5 linked regions of the Homo sapiens genome follow. The protein of the gene in region 2 purifies or fractionates together with the protein of the main gene of each other region. This does not show direct contact. Each region holds a gene or a part of one and is shown on either strand. Other genes may lie near its edges. The genes, in order: TBCD, SH3GLB2, THG1L, LZTFL1 and RPUSD2.

Region 1 (3,518 bases), on a different chromosome or scaffold from region 2:
TCCCAAAAAGTAGCATTATTAATAACAGCCAAAAACCGGAAACAACTCAAATGTCCATCAACAGATAAAAGAAGAAACAACCCCAGCACTTTGGAAGGCTGAGGCGGGCGGATCACGAGGTCAGGAGATCGAGACCATCCTGGTTAACAAGGTGAAACCCCGTCTCTACTAAAAATAAAAAAAAAATTAGCTGGGTGTGTTGGCGGGCACCCGTAGTCCCAGCTACTCGGGAGGCTGAGGCAGGAGAATGGCGTGAACCCGGGTGGCAGAGCTTGCAGTGAGCCGAGATCGCACCACTGCACTCCACCGCACTCCAGCCTGGGCAACAGACCAAGACTCCATCTCAAAAAAAAAAAAGAAGAAACAAATTGTGATTTATCAGCACGAGAGAAAACGTACAAACTACTGATACACACACCAACAATGGTAAGTCCCGGAGATGTTATTTTAACAACGGAAGACAAAAAGAGCACATACTGAATGATTCTAGAACAGGCAAAACTAATGAACAGTACCATTAACCAACAGTGGTTCCCTAGGGCTGGGGTGAGGGGACTGACAGCAAAAGGACATCAAGTAACTCCTTGGGATGACAGAAATGTTCCATATCTTGATAGCGCGGGGTGTATACATTTACCGAAACTCAAACATCTTACTAAAATGGGTGCATTTTATAGTAGGTAAATTTTAAACTCAATAAAATTAAAACTCAATAAAATGTTCTAAGAATAAAAATTTATAATCGTGGATAAAGAGTAGCATTATTTACAAACCATATAATATTTACCTGCTAAGAAAACCCAGAAGAAACAACTGGCCGGGCACGGTGGCTCACGCCTGTAATCCCAGCACTTTGGGAGGCCGAGGCAGGTGGATCACCTGAGGTCAGGAGTTCAAGACAAGCCTGGCCATCATGGTGAAACCCTGTCTCTACTCAGAATACAAAAATTGGCCAGGCTAATTTTACAGGTGGCGCCTGTAATCCCAGCTACTCAGGAGGCTGAGGCAGGAGAATCGCTTGAACCCAGGAGAAGGAGGTTGCAGTGAGCCAAGATCACGCCATTACACTCCAGCCTGGGTGACAGAGCAAGACTTTGTCTCCAAAAAAAAAAAAAGACTGAAAAACTATTGAAGTAAACATTTCATCACACAGTGAACCTCATAGACATGATGCTAAGTGAAAAAAGCCAGTGCCAAAAGACCTCCTACTGCATGATTCCATCACACAAAATGCTGAATACACACAAACCCAGAGCCAGATGAGTGGTTACTGCGGAAGCAGAGAATGGGAAGGAATTGTTGATGGGAGTTGGGTTGCTTCAGATGATGAAAATGCCTAGATTGTGGTAGTGATAGTTACACAACTCTGTAATACACTAATACACTAACACTAAAATGTATATTTAGAAGAGTGAACTCTATAGTATGTAATTATATCCCTATAAAGATGTTAAGAAATGTATGTTTACACATACATATTCCATTACAGTGTTGCCATTTACAAAAACAGTATACAAAACATATCTTCACTAGACATCAGCAATAACTAGTTAGAACACATAACAAATAGTTTCACAAGAGCAATAAAAGACAAAACATACCTAGAAATAAACCTAAAAAAAAGTCTCCAGGAATCATCTAAAGAAAATCACCAACCTTCACTGAGGAACACAAAAGATGTGAATAATTAGAGACATAATACCATGATCTTAGACATGAAAATTAAATCTTAGAAAGACTTCTCCCCTACATGAATTTGTGAATTTAATAGAATTCCAAAGGGTGGAGAGTGATAAAATAATTCCGGAGTTCATCCGCATTAATGAACGGGCTACAAAACCATCAAGAAAATAAGAGGAAAGGATGCCAGGCAAAATATAAACTAACATCAAACAAAATGACCCAGGCCAGGCGTGGTGGCTCACGCCTCTAATTCCAGCACTTTGGGAGGCCAAGGCGGGCAGACTGCTTGAGGTCAGGAGTTCGAGACTATCCTGGCCAACATGATGAAAACCGTTCTCTACTAAAAATACAAAAATTAGCCAGGCGTGGTGGCACATGCTACTCGGGAGGCTGAGGCAGGAGAATCTCTTGAACCTGGGAGGCGGAGGTTGCAGTAAGCCAAGAACACGCCACTGCACTCCAGCCTGGGTGACAGAGCGAGACTCCATCTCAAAAAAAAAAAAAAAACAAACAAACGAAATGACCCAGAAAAAAGAGCATACAGATAGGTCAATGGAACAGGATAAAAAATCTAAAAGCAAAGGCTAATATATTTGAATATTTAATATAGATTTAAAATGGCATTTCAAGTAGGGGAGAGGCCACTAAATCATCCAATAAATGAGGCTTACATAACTGATTAGGAAAAATAAACTTTCTAACCGTACTACCAAAGGCCAAACACAAAGAAACTGATAGTTTGACAAGCTAAATATTTCTAAAACTTCAGTAGAGACTGGGTGCAGTGGCTCACACCTGTCATCCCAGCACTGTGGGAGGCCAAGGCAGGATTGCTTGGGGCCAGAAGTTCGAGACCAGCCTGAGGAACACAGCGTGACCCTGACCCTGCAAAAACAAAATTTTTTTTTTTTTGAGACAGTCTGGCTCTGTAGCCCACGCTGGAGTGCAGTGGCACGATCTCGTTCACTGCTACCTCCGCGTCCTGGGTCCCAGTTCAAGCAATTCTCCTGCCTCGGCCTCTCAAGTAGCTGGGATTACAGGCATGCTTCACCATGCCCAGCTAATTTTTGTATTTTTAGTAGAGACAGGGTTTCACCATGTTGGTCAGGCTGGTCTTGAACTCCTGACCTTGTAATCCACCCGCCTCGGCCTCCCAAAGTGCTAGGATCAGAGGCATGAGCTACTGCGCCTGGCCAAAAAAAAAAGTTTTTTAATTAACTAGGCATGGCAGCTTGTGCCTGTTGTCCCAGCTCTGCAGGAGGCTGAAGTGAGAAGATCACTTAATCCCAGGAGCTCAAGGCTGCAGTGAGCTATGACTGCGCCACTACACTCCAGCCTGGGTGACAGAGCGAGATCCCATCTCTTTAAAAAAACAAACACGAAAAAACTTCAGTAGATAAAATACACCAGACACAATATTAAAAGGCAAAAGCAGGCCGGGCACAATGGCTCACACCTGTAATCCCAGCACTTTGGGAGACCAAGGTGGGCAGATCACGTGGGGGTCAGGAGTTTGAGACCAGCCTGGCCAACATGGTGAAACCCTGTCTCTACTAAAAATGCAAAAAATTAGCCAGGCGTGGTAGCACACGCCTGTAATCCCAGCTACGCTGGAGGCTGAGGCAGGAGAATCGCTTGAACCCTGGAGGCAGAAGTTGCAGTGAGCCAAGATTGGGCCACTATACTCCAGCCTGGGCAACAGAGAGACTACATCTCAAAAAAAAAAAAAAAAAAGAAAAAAAAAAAAGCAAAAGGGTGGAAAAATGTGCAACAAATGACAAAGGACCAGCATCCCACGACTACATTTTCCTTTTTCTAAAAAGGAATTCCAGAAA
Region 2 (4,101 bases):
TCACCCAACCTTTGATCTCCTCCTCTCACCACACAGGGGGCTCCAGGCCCCAGCTCCAGAACCCCCTCCCTTCCCGTGACCGCCACCCCAACCCTCCTCCAATTTGGGGAAGCCACAGGGCCTCCCAGGCTGACAAACAGCTGTTCCAGCGGTGGAGGGCAAGTCCCAAGCCTGACTCCGGCTCAGTCACCAAGGTCAGGGCAGAAGAGAGGAGGAGAGGTCAGAGAGGAGGAGTAACGGGAGGAAACCCAAGGGAAACAGAGTGGAAGAAATGGGAATGGGAGGGAGGGGGTGTGAATAAAGAGCGGAGATGAAGAGGCACAAACAGGGGAGAGGCAGCAGGCCTGGGTGGTGGGAGGAGAAAGCAAGAGAGGCCCATTTTAGAGATCTGTTGCACATATTGGTGACTACTCAGTCACTTAGTGACTTTGGGAGACTGAGGCAGGCAGATTGCCTGAGATCAGGAGTTCAAGACCACCCTGGGCAACATGGCAAAACCTTGTCTCTCCTAAAGTACAAAAAATTAGCGGGGCATGTTGGTGGGCGCCTGTAGTCCCAGCTACTCGGGAGGCTGAATGAAGCAGGAGAATCGCTTGAGCCCGGCAGGTGGAGGCTGCAGTGAGCCGAGATCGCGCCACTGCACTCCAGCCTGGGCGACAGAGCAAGACTCTGTCTACAAAAAAAAAAAAAAAGTATTGCATATTTCAAAATTGCTAAAAGAGTACATTTGAAATGTTCTAACCACAAAAAAAGTAGGTGAGGTGATGGATATGTCAATTAACTTGATTTCATCATTCCACAATTTCATCACCTTGTAGGCCGTAAATATATATTTATCAATTAAAACTTTTGAAAAGCATTGGTAAGATGGCAAATAATATGTAATTATGGCGTGTACCTGCAATCATCTAAGAGCACATGTGTTCCAGTTTTAATAATTTTAGTAAAAGGAAAAAAAGAGGCCGGCCCAATCCGCGGCGGCAGGCGCATGGGGGCAGCAGCGAGCACTGCCCAGCAGCGAGCCCTGCCCAGCACAACCTGCTCCCCAGACCAACCCCCGCTCTGGCCGCGCCAAGGCCTCGCCCCCACCCATGTAGCTCCGCCCCACTGCCCTCTCGCTCCGCCCCTGTCCCGCCAGTCCCGCCCCCTCCGACTCCGCCCGGCTTCCGCCAACCAGCCCGGCCCCCGCCCCTCTAGCTCCGCCCCACTGCCGTCCCGTCCCGCCCCGGCACCGCCAGCTCCGCCCCCGCCCCTCTGGCTCCGACCCGCGGCCTCCGCGCCCCGCCCTGCGCGCTCGGGCTGGCTCGGCGGCTGCGGCGGGCGGGCAGGCGGGCAGGCCGGCAGGCGGGTGCGCGGAGGGCTGGTGCCCCGCAGCAGGTGGGCGGGGTGCGGTTGGCGGCGGCGGCTGGGCCGGGGGCTGCCGGCTGCGCTCGGGCCGTGCGCGGCGGCCGTGCGGGCACGCCATGGACTTCAACATGAAGAAGCTGGCGTCGGACGCGGGCATCTTCTTCACCCGGGCGGTGCAGGTGAGGCCTGGCGTCGCGCCGTGCGCCGGGGGCCCGGATGTGCGGCGGGCGGGGAGCACCCTGCGGCAGACGCCTGGGGACGCGGGAAAGCCCTCCCGGGCTGCTGCCCTCGTCCCCGCCGCGGCACACCTCTGCCCCCCTGAGCCCTTGCTGACCGGAAGAGGGAAAGAGCCCGTGCGGCCCGAGCCGGGCCTTGGCCCTGCTGCCTGGGGCGAGGCACCGGTGCCCACCCTTTGGGCTGGTTGGGTTACCCTGCTCCCCTGGCGCCTGCCTGGCTGAGGAGGGGAGGAGGCACCGGCTGGGTGCTACCTCCCTGCCCTTGTCCAGCAGTGACTGGCGCCTGGCGGGGCATTTAGCGACCTGGGTCCCAGGCCCAGGGACTCATGCGTCCACCACAACCCCTTCTCCGAGCCTCAGTCTCCGCACCTGTGCAATGGGCGGCTGGTGCCATGAGTCCCTCATGGCCATTTCACACGTTTGGATAGTCAGGCCGGAAGCCAGGAGTTGTTTCTTTTCTGCTCCACGGGAGGTCTGTTTCCTTGGTCCCTGGGCCTGGGGGATGGAGAGAGGGCTGGGGTCTGGCTGGGAAGCTGTCCAGGCCCACGATGCTGAGATTGGAAGAAGTCCTATCCGTTTAGGGGCAGAGAGTAACAGGCAACTCAACATCATGGGAAGACCTAGGGTCAGGTGTGGGTGGGAATGTGCCCTCCTGTGACCTTGGGGGAGGGGCCTTCATCTCACTGGGCCTCAGTTTCTCAGTCTGAAAAATGGGATCAGTATTCCTGCCTCCCAGGACAGATGCGAGGATTCTGTGGGACTCTGCATATGTGTGCTCACCAAAGGCAAGCTCATTATTGGTGTCAAAGTGGTTAATATTGCACCTGTGCAGCATGTGACCTTGGACAAGTCACTTCTCTCAGAGCCCCGCCCTCCCCTTCTGTAAATCTGGTGTAACACCGTGGTTATGGGATTCAGTGGGATTCCGCAGGCCCGGGGCTGGCCCATCCCAGGGTTCTGGGAGCAGGTCCTGTAGTCTTGTCTTTGTCGTTGTCGTTGTCATCGTTGTTGTTTCTGTTGAGTACAGTTCTCTCCCCACCCCCAACCCGGGCACTCCCCTCCCCAGGAGCCCACACCCAGCCAGCAACCCATGTAGTCATGTTTACTAGAAGGTGCTGTGTCCCGCTGAGGATTAGCATCCCAGCGAGAATTCACTGCTTAATGTGTTCCAAGTCTGGTGGGCAGCCCCAGCCCTAGTGGAGATGCCAGGATCCCAGAGCCCCTCGGATTGGACGGCCCCAGTCCATCTGGGAGGGGGGAACCCACTCTGCTGTTGGTATGGCAACCACACTATCTCCCACATCTGGGAAGAACCTGATCTGCCAGTTCCCTGCTAGGGCTGGGGCCCTGCTGCCTGACCTGGCCAGGGCTCTCAGGACCTAGGCAGGGCAGGGCCTAGGTGTGGCTCCGCTTGGTGGGAGCTGCCCCACAGGGTCACTGTTACTGGAGTGGGAGCCAGCAGTCAGGCCCCAGCCTCGGGGTGGGAGGGAGGGAGCTGAGAGCTTTATAAATAGAGGCTTTCTCTGCTCTGCACGCCCACCCCACTGCTGCCATTTTCCCGGGAGCAGCCTCGGACTCCAGCACCAAACCCCTTCCTCTTGGCAGGATTGGGGCAGAGTGGCAGGCCAGGGGATAGAGAGGCCTGAAATGTGACCTGGCAGGAGAGGCCACAGAGGGGCTCCGCCTGAGACCAAGCTGGCCTGGATGGGAGACAGTCAGGAGGGATGGGAGAGGGGTTCTTTATGATCAATACATGTGATGGGCTCAGGAACCTCCCAGTCCCTGCAGGTACAAGAAACAACTTTAAGAGCCTCCCCGATCCAGCAAGGAACAAGGCCTTGGCCCTGAGATGAGGATCCAGAGGGCAGGATCCCTTTTGTATGGGTCATTCTGGGATGGTCTCCTGCATGGAGGGCCCCTGAACTGTGCTCAGAAAGTAGGGAGGGGCTCATGATGTTGGTCCAAGTGGCAGGAGCAGCCCAGATAAGGGCACCGAGGCAAGAAAACCTAAGGCAGATTTGGACAAGATGCCAGTGGGGGTGGGAGAGGGCAGGAGGAGTGATAGTACTAATACTATTAGTAGTAATTGCAGTAACAGTAATAGTAGTGGTAGAAGTAATACTTATAAAGTCCAGAGAGGTGGTGGCATCGTCATCATGGAGCTAGGCAGACTGCAGTGGACATGGGATGGATGCCGTCTAGTTTGGGAAAGCCTGGTAGAACTTCTCACCTGGGCAGATGTGGCCTGTAAGGGAGGGCGGGGTGGGGAGTGCTGCTCTGAACCTTGGTAAGGAGGGGAGGTGTTGAGGTGCACATTTAGGGTGATGCCCTTGGTACCATCAGGGTAGCTCCTGAGAGCTGAGGAGGGATGTGAGGGAGGCCTGCCTGCCTGCCTGCCTGCCTGCCTGCCTTCCTTCCTTCCTCCCTTAGTCCCTCTCTCCTTTCTTCTTTCCTTCCTTTTTTTTTTTTGAGACAGAGTCTCATCCTGTCGCCGAGGCTGGAGTGCAGTGGCACAATC
Region 3 (3,518 bases), on a different chromosome or scaffold from region 2:
AAATACAGAACCAAGGTATTAAAATAGTGTTTCTTAGCCAAATGCATTTTATCTCCTGGCTTTCTGGGCAGTTTGTGTACTCTCTGTGGTACCCACAGGTCTTATCATGGTGTTGAACTAATTCCGTGTATTTTTCTTTTTCTTACTCCACCCAATGTGCGTTACATTTTCAAGTAAGTTCATGACTCACGTGGCCTCCCAGTTTGCCTCCAGCTATGTGTTTTATTGGCGGGATTACTTTGAGGACCAGCCCCTTCTGTATCCCCCAGGCTTTGACGGAAGAGTCGTGGTGTATCCCAGCAACCAGACTTTAAAGGACTACCTCAGCTGGCGACAAGCAGATTGTGAGTGGCACCAAATAAACACATGTAGTTAAACCACCAATTCCATGTCTTACAGGTGTTGATCTGATACAGGATTGGCTCACATATACTTTGTTTCAACATATACGTTGTACAGAATGCAGTATTTAAATATTTTTTCAATTAGTTAAAAGTATTTGAAAAATTAAATTTTACGTAAAAACTCCTTATCTCTATTTTTTTTTTTTTTTAAGACAGAGTTTCGCTCTTGTTGCCCAGGCTGGAATGCAGTGGTGTCATCTTGGCTCACTGCAACCTCCACCTCCTGGGTTCATGGGATTCTTCTGCCTCAGCCTCCCGAGTAGCTGGGATTACAGGCATGTGCCACCACGCCCGGCTGATTCTGTATTTTTTAGTAGAAATGGGGTTTCTCCATGTTGGTCAGGCTGGTCTTGAACTCCTGACCTCAGGTGATCCACCCGCCTTGGCCTCCCAAAGTGCTGGGATTATAGGCGTGAGCCACCACGCCCAGCCGCCTTATCTCTATTTTTTAAAAAAATCAGATGTGGCAATACTGGATCTGCATTCTTACTTAGTACTAGACAAAGCCTGTTCAGTGGCAGCTACCTTTACACACACACACACACACAAATGCCAGTGTGCCATAGTCTCTGCCATTCCCTGTTGTTCCTCTGGGGTCACCCACTGCTTTACACATTTATGTTCATGCTGGCCTCAGTGGGTATTTGAATTGTGACCCTTGCCTTATGTGACTGTGATGATGTTTGTGAGGCTTTTACTTGCTTGTTCTAGTTTGAATTTTCCAGAAGAACTGGAAAAGAGATTGAAATAATATAAATCAAATAACTTCTAAAGTATTCCTAGGATTAACACACAAGTTAACAGATTTGTATAATGTGTAACTGAAATGACCAAATAAAACTGTTGTTAGGGATGAAGTTTTTTCCCTACTGCTCCTTCCCTCCATGTTCCGTGTGTAGGACTTCGGTCAAGTCACTGAATGTCTCTGAGATCTCTTTACTATGAAAGAGGAGAGGGTCAGGGCTCTAGTATTCCTTGAAGAATGAATATTCAATAAAGATTTTATGTATATAAACATTACTATTTTGTTCTCCTCACAGGTCACATCAATAATCTTTATAATACAGTTTTCTGGGCACTTATACAACAATCTGGACTAACACCAGTACAAGCCCAAGGGAGATTACAGGTATAAAGATCTTACTACATTAATACTTAACTGGGGACAGTTCGCTGTAGGCTCTCCCATAACTTTTTTTTTGTTAAATTTACATTTCTTTCTTTTAAGATCCCTGTACAGCTTTGTTTTGAAAGGATATAAAAATCATAATAGGAGCAGCTCTGCTGCCTGCTTGGTCTGTAATCCTGGATGAATTACTGCTTCTCCCTGAGCCTTTGTGTTCTTAGTGGAAAATGGAATTGACGGCACTGGCTCTGCATTCCCACGTGCTAACACTTGCCTGAAGCCGTGTATGACTGTGTATGACTGCCGTCTTCAGCACTGACTTTTTTTTTTTTTTTTGAGACACAGTTTCACTCTGTTGCCCAGGCTGCAGTACAGTGGTGTGATCTCAGCTGATTGCAACCTCCACCTCCTGTGCTCAAGCGATTCTCGTGCCTCAGCCTCCCAAGTAGCTGGGATTACAGGTGCATGCCACCACACCCAGCTAATTTTTGTATTTTTAGTAGAGACAGGGTTTCACCCCGTTGGCCAGGCTGGTCTTGAACTCCTGACCTGAAGTGATCTGCCTGCCTGGGCCTCCCAGAGTGCTGGGATTACAGGCGTGAGCCAGTGAGCCACCACACCTGGCCAGCACTGAATTTTTGTCAGTCCCACCACGCCTCTTCCCTCATTGCCATTTTCCCTGCTGGGCACCTGTAGTTTCTTGGGTTTATGACCTCTGTGTATAGGAAGAGTTCGTGCTGAGTTTGTTACTTTCATAAATGTCATAATAACTACTCACATCATGCTTCTGTGTAATTTTATCCTTTCTGCCTCAGTTCTTTATAGGTAAAATGTAGAAAATAGTAGTTTCTACCTCATAGGTTTATGGTGAGAATTAAATGGCATGATGCACGTAAAACACAGAATCGTATGAAGCACATTGTAAGTGCTTAATAAATACTGGTTTTTGTTATAACAGTGCTACTTGTAGGATGACTAACTGTGAAGTGAGGTAATGTGTTGTAACAGATCTTTTATTTGTATTTTATTTTATCTATTTATTTATTTTTTGAGATGGGTTCTTGCTATTTTCCCCAGGCTGGTCTTGAACTCCTGGGCTCCAGCAGTCCGCCCACCTCAGCCTCCCAAGTAGCTGGGATTACAGGTGCATGCCACTGTGCCCAGCTGTAACAGTTACTAATACAATGCCTGGTACATTATGTTTGCTCAATAAATGGTTGTCATTTTTAATAATAGTAATGATAGAGATTTTTATATAGCAATAATAGGAAAACTGGGGCCTGGTGTGGTGGTTCACGCATGTAATCCCAGCACTCTGAGGAGGCCAAGGTAGGTGGATCACCTGACGTCAGGAGTTCAAGACCAGCCTGGCCAACATGGTGAGACCGCTTCTCTACAAAAATTAGCTGGGTGTGCTGGCACACACCTGTAATCCCAGCGACTCAGGAGGCTGAGGCATGAGAATCGCTTGAACCTGGGAGGTGGCAGTTGCAGTGAGCTGAGATTGCACCACTGCACTCCAACCTGGGCAACAGAGTGAGACTTTGTCTAAAAAAAAAAAAGGCATACTGGTAGGTATATCCAGGTTTGGAAGAGTCAAGTTCAGATTTCAATTCTTCGTAGAAGAATAAGGACAACCTTTTAACCTTGGGGAATTTATATAACCTTTCTAAGTTTTACTGGACCAAATACATAATATGTATTCAGTTAGTATTAATTCTCCCCACTCCCTTTCAGTCTTGACTTGTGAAGCCAGTGTTTGGTATAGGAGAGAATTTTATCTAAGTAAGATCATAATTGCCCTTAAGATGAAAATTTACTAATAACTATAAGATGTTTGATAAAATCCTTCCACTTCTTGATTGTGGAAATTTAGGTTGTGGGTCGAATGGATAGTAGCACTAGGGGAGAAAGAAGACATGCAGAGCTTTTAATATCTATTTTTATTTTCTCAGGGAACTCTTGCAGCAGACAAGAATGAGATTTTG
Region 4 (3,518 bases), on a different chromosome or scaffold from region 2:
ACTCGGAGGCTGAGGCAGGAGAATGGCGTGAACCCGGGAGGTGGAGCTTGGAGTGAGCCTAGATCACGCCACCGCACTCCAGCCTGGGCGACAGAGCAAGACTCTGTCTCAAAAAAACAAACCAACAAACAACAATAAAAAACCCAAACTATTACATTTTTGAGGGCAAGGGAGCAGGTATTACACTGCTTTTTATTTCTAACAACATCTAGCATAATGTTGAGAATACAAGGGTCATGAAAAATAGCTGAAATCTGAAATGCTTCAACATCAGAAACTTTCTGAGTGCTGACATGATGCTCAAAGAAACTGCTCATTGGAGCATTTCAGATTTCAGATTTTTGGATTTGGGATGCTCAACTGGGGTCTGTATAATGCAAATATTCAAAAATCTGAAATCCAAAACACTTCTAGTCCCAAGGATAAGGGATACTCAACCTGTGCTGATAAATAATTTTTTTTTTTTTTTGAGATGGAGTCTCGCTCTGTCGCCCAGGCTAGAGTGCAGTGGCGTGATCTCAGCTCACTGCAACCTCTACCTCCCGGGTTCAAGCAATTCTCCTGCCTCAGCCTCCCGAGTAGCTCTGACTATAGGCACGTACCACCACACCCGGCTAATTGATAAATAATTTTTATAAACTTAAAAACCCTTCTCCTTGTTACCGCAGATCACAAACTTTAAATGTCCATCAATAAACGCTGTCCAAAATTTCATGCTCTTCACTTTACCTTGAAAAGGTGTGATCAGGAGCTACTTCAGGCTCTCTAGAAGGTTAAGTATGCCCTCTTCTGGCCCATGGGGTACCATCAAGTAAAACTACTGCAATGGACTAATTATCCTCAGAGGACCTGAAACAAACCTTCCACTTCTGTTTCTCCACCCTAGGCAATGACAGGACAGAATGAGAGACTTTCCGTTTCTCAAAATAATAATATTACCTTGTTTAGGAGTTCTGCTGTTCCACCTTCATTAAGTGGAGCAAGTTTTGGCTTTGTGACATCTAAGATGGGCTGAAACAAAATAAAGAAACCAAACTGAAATCACCACAGAATAAAGCATGTATAATCATTGAACACTTGCACTTTGCAAGTGGAAGATACTATATATAAACATATTCACTGCGATGTCAGTTCCACAGGTGTGGAGATTTCTGTTGGTTTCATCCTTTGTTACTCCCAGTGCCTAGGATATGCCTGTCCTACAGTGCCCCATACATGTTAGAGACAAAAATAAAACCTATCTTCCCTGTATCTTTTAAAAATATATAGATAGAAGGAAAATGAGGGAAGAAAGGAGGGACGGAAGGAGCTCAAAGCCAGATCTGATATAGAGCCTAGCATCTAGCAACTAGAATTTTAGCCTGTGGGAGCTGAAACAGTGATTTCTACATGAACCTTAGACTCTGTGAAAAACAATAATATTGATGAAGATCTAGGCAAGTATAATACAGATAAACAATAACTTGGCACAAATAATATAGTAGTTTAGTAATATATATTAAAAATAAAATAATTCATGCCCTCTGATCCAGAAATTTCTTAGCCATAAATATGACCCAAAGGAATAACTGGAAAGTATTTTGCATGTGTATGTACATAGATTCATCTCAGCAGTATTTATCCAACAATGGAGTATTTACGGTGTGCCCGTGAAGTGGAATGGTAAGTGGCCACTCCAATTAATGAGAATGATTAGAAAGAGAGGTAGATAACTACTAGTATTGTCTCCATTTGTCAGATGAGTAAAATGAAGCTCAGCTACCTCAGATAACCTGCTCAAGGTAACACAGCCAGGAAGTGACAGAGCCAGGATGTATACCCAGGTGTGGCTGACCCTACAGCCTGCGCTCTGAATCTTCTGAGTAGAGTATTTATGAGTGGGATTGAGACTGAACTTAGGGATCATGTGTATGTGTAAGCCATCACAGACAAAAGCAGTTTTTCACAGTTACTTCCAAAACATTTTTTCTTTTGCCTGAAAATATGATAGACAATTTCTGAATTTTACTCTTGAATTGAATGCTTTTCCTTAAGAGTTCTCAGTTTTGATCTCTGAATTCTTTGAGCAACTTGAGGATTTTAAATACTGGCTATTAAGATATGGATTTAGAATGACCAAAAAGTTACCTTTTTGTTTGAAGATGTAATCTCTGCTTTTTCAAATTCTGCAACTTGTTCTAATAATTCTCTTGAAGAAGAAAGCAAAGATAAAAATTATTCATTTAAAATAGATTTATATCACACGCAAGAAGAGTAAAATCACTGGTACCAACCCATTACATGCCAGAGAGAACAGAGCAAGATGGACCAAACTTCACCATATCAAAAATGTTAGTTGCAAATGGTTGAGAACCTAAACCACATGGACTCAAATGTAATCATCCACAGTACCTGGCATTTTGTATCTACTAGGTATGCAATATCTACTGCTAGAAATAAACCATAATGTTAATACAAATATGAGGAAAATTTATAGTCAACTTTGTATTCTTGAGGTGCTATGAGGAGACTGTTTTATTACATAATGTGTATTGTTAGCTAGTAGGTGTTCAAAAAAGATTCTTAATAAAGTAGTCTCAGAAAAATGAAAATAGTCCATAGTATCTACTGAAAAAGAGTACCACAAATTCCTAGGAAAGACAGATAGTGGGGGTGTGCCATCTGAAGATTTGCAAAGGCCAATGAGAAGTGACTACACACAAGCTTAGAGTGTTAACAGCAGTCAGCTTCTAAGCTTCTTAAAGCACCACCTTCTCAGAGTTTTCTCACCAGTCATCTACTGACAGTGGCAGAAGTTCAATGATTTTCCTCCCCAGCTCATAGGTTGTCCTCAGCGTTGTTCAACACTCTGCATGTGAACTGATGTGCTGTGACTGTGCTTAGAGTAGTTCACGGGGCTTGGCGGTCAGTCCTTCCTGATTTCTGGCATGCTTTTTCTTAAAATGAGTTTCAACTTCACCAATTTTACCATATTTTTTGAATTTGAGCTCTTAGATGTCCATATTATAAGCTTTTTTGTATATTTCCTATTTCAAAGTTAATAAATGTATACTTTTAAATTCCATTATTTAGAAAACTTCCAATGCTACTGGATTGAATTGATGGTATTTATTATATTTGAATTGACTTTTCAACTGTCTCATAATCTCTATTTCTTAGTTGACCAATCTATAAAGACTGATGGTAATACTGACCAAGCTAACAAAAATGCTGTAAGAAATAATTAATGATAGCCTGAAAAGCAATTTCATAAATCTCGATGGCCTTTGTAATACCTAGGAACAGTAGAAACAGAGAACTTTTAAAAGGGTGCTTAGTGGTACCCAAGAGATCACTCAGTGACTCAATGCTTTGCTGTTACCCTACCCAAATTTCCTCACACACTAGCCCCAAGAAAATATGCAGCCAAAGATGTTCACTAACTTTTAAGATTATGCTTGGGCCATTATTGTCACAGTTGCAAGTTCAAATTTTATTACCGGTTTTCAAGTTCAGAGATGTCTGTCTGTAGCTTAAGA
Region 5 (3,169 bases), on a different chromosome or scaffold from region 2:
CAGGCGCAGTGGCTCACGCCTGTAATCCCAACACTTTGGGAGGCCGAGGCGGGCAGATCACGAGGTCAGGAGATCGAGGTCATCCTGGCTAACACGGTGAAACCCCGTCTCTACTAAAAAAAAATACAAAAAATTAGCTGGGCGTGGTGGCGGGCACCTATAGTCCCAGCTACTCGGGAGGCTGAGGCAGGAGAATGGTGTGAACCCAAGAGGTGGAGCTTGCAGTGAGCCGAATCGCGCCACCGCACTCCAGCCTGGGTGACAGAGTGAGACTCTGTCTCAAAAAAAAAAAAAAAAACTTACCCTGGCATGGTGGCACATGCCTGTAGTCCCAGCTACTTGGGAGGCTGAGATAGGAGGATCACTTGGCCATGGGAGGTTGAGGCTGCAGTGAGCCATGAGCATGTCACTGCGTTCCAGCCTGAGCTATAGAACAAGACTCCGTCTCAAAGAAATAAATTAACATAAGAAAATAAAGTGCTGACAGGCTGAGCAAGGCTTTTAAGATTATGGGGAGAGCCTGCTTGGTGAAAAGATTCTAGATGTAGTTGGAAAAGTCTTGGGTAGAGGAGTTTAATGGTAATGATTGTTGTCCTGAGACTTGTAATTCTGGATCTGAATCATAATACATTTATTGAGTGCATGCTATATACCAGGCTTAGTATCAAGCACATTAGAGCCTAACTTACTGAATGCTTATCACAGCCCAATGAGGTAAATGCTTTTCTTTTCTTTTCTTTTTTTTTTTTTTTTTTTTTGAGATGGAGTTTCGCTCTTGTTGCCCAGTCTGGAGTGCAATGGTGTGATCCTGGCTCACTGCAACCTCCGCCTCCTGGGTTCAAGCAATTATCCTGCCTCAGCCTCCCAGGTAGCTGGGATGACTGGCATGCGCCACCACGCCTGGCTAATTTTGTATTTTTTAGTAGAGACGGGGTTTCTTCATGTTGGTCAGGCTGGTCTCGAACTTTCGACCTCAGGTGATCCACCCACCTCAGCTTCCCAAAGTGCTGGGATTACAGGCGTGAGCCACCTCACCCAGCTGGTAAATGCTTTTCTAATTTCACATTTTCTAGATGAGTTAGTAGGATTTAGAGGTTAAGTAATGTACCCAAGATCGCAAAACTGGCGAATGGTAGAGCTGGAGTTTGAATTTTCTGACACTGGTCCTTATCACTCCACAAAGAGTTTGGACTCCATGAATTTAGGCTTTGTACTGACTTTCTCCCTCTTCCCTCCTATGTAGCTGGAGAAGGAGTACGTGTGCCGGGTGGAAGGGGAGTTCCCCACTGAGGAAGTGACCTGTAAAGAACCCATCTTAGTGGTGTCTTACAAAGTAGGGGTGTGCCGTGTAGATCCCCGGGGCAAGCCCTGTGAGACAGTGTTCCAGAGGCTAAGCTACAATGGCCAGTCCAGTGTGGTACGGTGCCGGCCACTCACAGGCCGCACACACCAGATTCGAGTCCACCTTCAGTTCTTGGGCCATCCCATTCTCAACGACCCCATCTACAACTCAGTTGCCTGGGGTCCTTCTCGAGGCCGGGGCGGCTACATTCCCAAGACAAACGAGGAGTTGCTACGGGACCTGGTAGCAGAGCACCAGGCCAAACAGAGCCTGGATGTGCTAGATCTCTGTGAGGGTGACCTGTCCCCAGGACTCACAGACTCTACGGCCCCCTCCTCAGAGTTGGGCAAGGACGACCTGGAAGAGTTGGCTGCAGCTGCCCAGAAGATGGAGGAAGTAGCTGAGGCAGCCCCTCAGGAGTTGGACACAATAGCCTTGGCATCAGAGAAGGCAGTTGAAACAGATGTCATGAATCAAGAGACAGACCCACTCTGTGCAGAGTGCCGGCTGGTGCGACAGGATCCCTTGCCCCAAGACCTTGTGATGTTCCTACATGCCCTACGCTATAAAGGGCCAGGCTTTGAGTACTTTTCACCAATGCCTGCCTGGGCACAGGATGACTGGCAAAAGGACTGAGGGTGTGGCCAATGGAGGGATTGCTTCTTGGGTTGTGACAAGGATGGGCTATAGGGCAAGGGCTGACCCCATGGGCTAGTACTTGGGGTTTCTATAGGAATGAGGACGGGCTTCTAAAGAGACCTGCTCATACTTGCTACCTCCTTCCAGTGGGAATTTGGAGACTTTTTGGTTTGTAAATATATCCCTTTTTCTAACATCTTTGATGTCTGGTTTTCTTCCGGCTTCTTTTTTATTACTGATGTAAAATTCACATAACATAAAATTAACCACTTTAACTAGCCAGGCACAGTGGCTCATGGCTATAATCCTAGTACTTTGGGAGGTAGAAGTGAAAGGATCACTGGAGGCCAAGAGTTCAAGGTTAAAGTGAACTGTGATTGTGCTGCTGCACTCCAGAGCCTAGGTGACAGAGTGAGACCCTGTCTCTTAAAAAAAAAAAAAATTAACCAATTTAAGATGTACAGCGTAGTCACATTTAGTACATTCACAGTGTTGTACAACCATAACCTCATATATTTCCAAAACATTTTCATCACCCCAAAAGGAAACCTGTACCCATTAAGTAAGTGGTCACTTTCCACTCCCCTTCCACCAGCCTCTGGCAACCACTAATCTACTTTCTGTCTGTTTGGATTTGCCTGTTTATTCTGGACATTTTATATAAATGGAATGATAAAACATGTGACCTATGTCTCTGTTTCCCTTGGCATAATGTTTTCAAGGTTTATTCAACTTGTAGCATGTATCGGTACTTCATTCTTTTTTTATGGCAGAATAAGCTGTTGTATGGATATACCACGATTTGTCTATCTGTTCATCAGTTAATGGACATTTGGGTTGTTTCCACCATTTCATTATTGTGGATAGTGCTGCTGTGAACATTAAATATGTTTTCAGTTCTTTTGGGTATATACCTCACAGTGGAATTGCTGGGTCATATGGTAATTCTATGTTTAAATGTTTGAGAATCCACCAAACTTTTCCACAGCAGCTGAACCATTTTATATTGCCACCAGCAAGCATAGGGTTTCAATTTCTCTACATCTTCACCAACATTTGTTTTGTTTTGATTATAGTCATCCTAGTAGGAGTGAAGTGGCATCTCATTCTGGGTTGTTAGTCTTTTTGTTGTGGAGTGTAAGTGTTCTTTATATATTCTGGATGTGAGAGTCTTAGCAAAAAGACTAA

The links.
Region 1: the proteins of SH3GLB2 (region 2) and TBCD fractionate together in Homo sapiens (co-fractionation; one large-scale study listed by BioGRID). This does not show direct contact.
Region 3: the proteins of SH3GLB2 (region 2) and THG1L fractionate together in Homo sapiens (co-fractionation; one large-scale study listed by BioGRID). This does not show direct contact.
Region 4: the proteins of SH3GLB2 (region 2) and LZTFL1 fractionate together in Homo sapiens (co-fractionation; one large-scale study listed by BioGRID). This does not show direct contact.
Region 5: the proteins of SH3GLB2 (region 2) and RPUSD2 fractionate together in Homo sapiens (co-fractionation; one large-scale study listed by BioGRID). This does not show direct contact.

What each region holds. Positions count from the first base shown.
Region 1 is NC_000017.11:82,758,561-82,762,078, reverse strand, and holds part of TBCD (tubulin-specific chaperone D), read right to left. Parts: intron 1-3,518.
Region 2 is NC_000009.12:129,025,517-129,029,617, reverse strand, and holds the start of SH3GLB2 (endophilin-B2), read left to right. Parts: upstream 1-1,286; 5' UTR 1,287-1,463; coding exon 1,464-1,526; exon of another isoform or gene 1,527-1,959; coding exon of another isoform or gene 1,960-2,055; intron 2,056-4,101.
Region 3 is NC_000005.10:157,734,402-157,737,919, forward strand, and holds part of THG1L (probable tRNA(His) guanylyltransferase), read left to right. Parts: intron 1-174; coding exon 175-344; intron 345-1,444; coding exon 1,445-1,533; intron 1,534-3,485; coding exon 3,486-3,518. UniProt on the Homo sapiens protein: Adds a GMP to the 5'-end of tRNA(His) after transcription and RNase P cleavage. This step is essential for proper recognition of the tRNA and for the fidelity of protein synthesis.
Region 4 is NC_000003.12:45,832,111-45,835,628, forward strand, and holds part of LZTFL1 (leucine zipper transcription factor-like protein 1), read right to left. Parts: coding exon 3,480-3,518; intron 2,189-3,479; coding exon 2,128-2,188; intron 1,012-2,127; coding exon 940-1,011; intron 1-939. UniProt on the Homo sapiens protein: Regulates ciliary localization of the BBSome complex. Together with the BBSome complex, controls SMO ciliary trafficking and contributes to the sonic hedgehog (SHH) pathway regulation. May play a role in neurite outgrowth. May have tumor suppressor function.
Region 5 is NC_000015.10:40,572,284-40,575,452, forward strand, and holds the end of RPUSD2 (pseudouridylate synthase RPUSD2), read left to right. Parts: intron 1-1,243; coding exon 1,244-1,978; 3' UTR 1,979-2,666; downstream 2,667-3,169. UniProt on the Homo sapiens protein: Pseudouridine synthase that catalyzes pseudouridylation of mRNAs.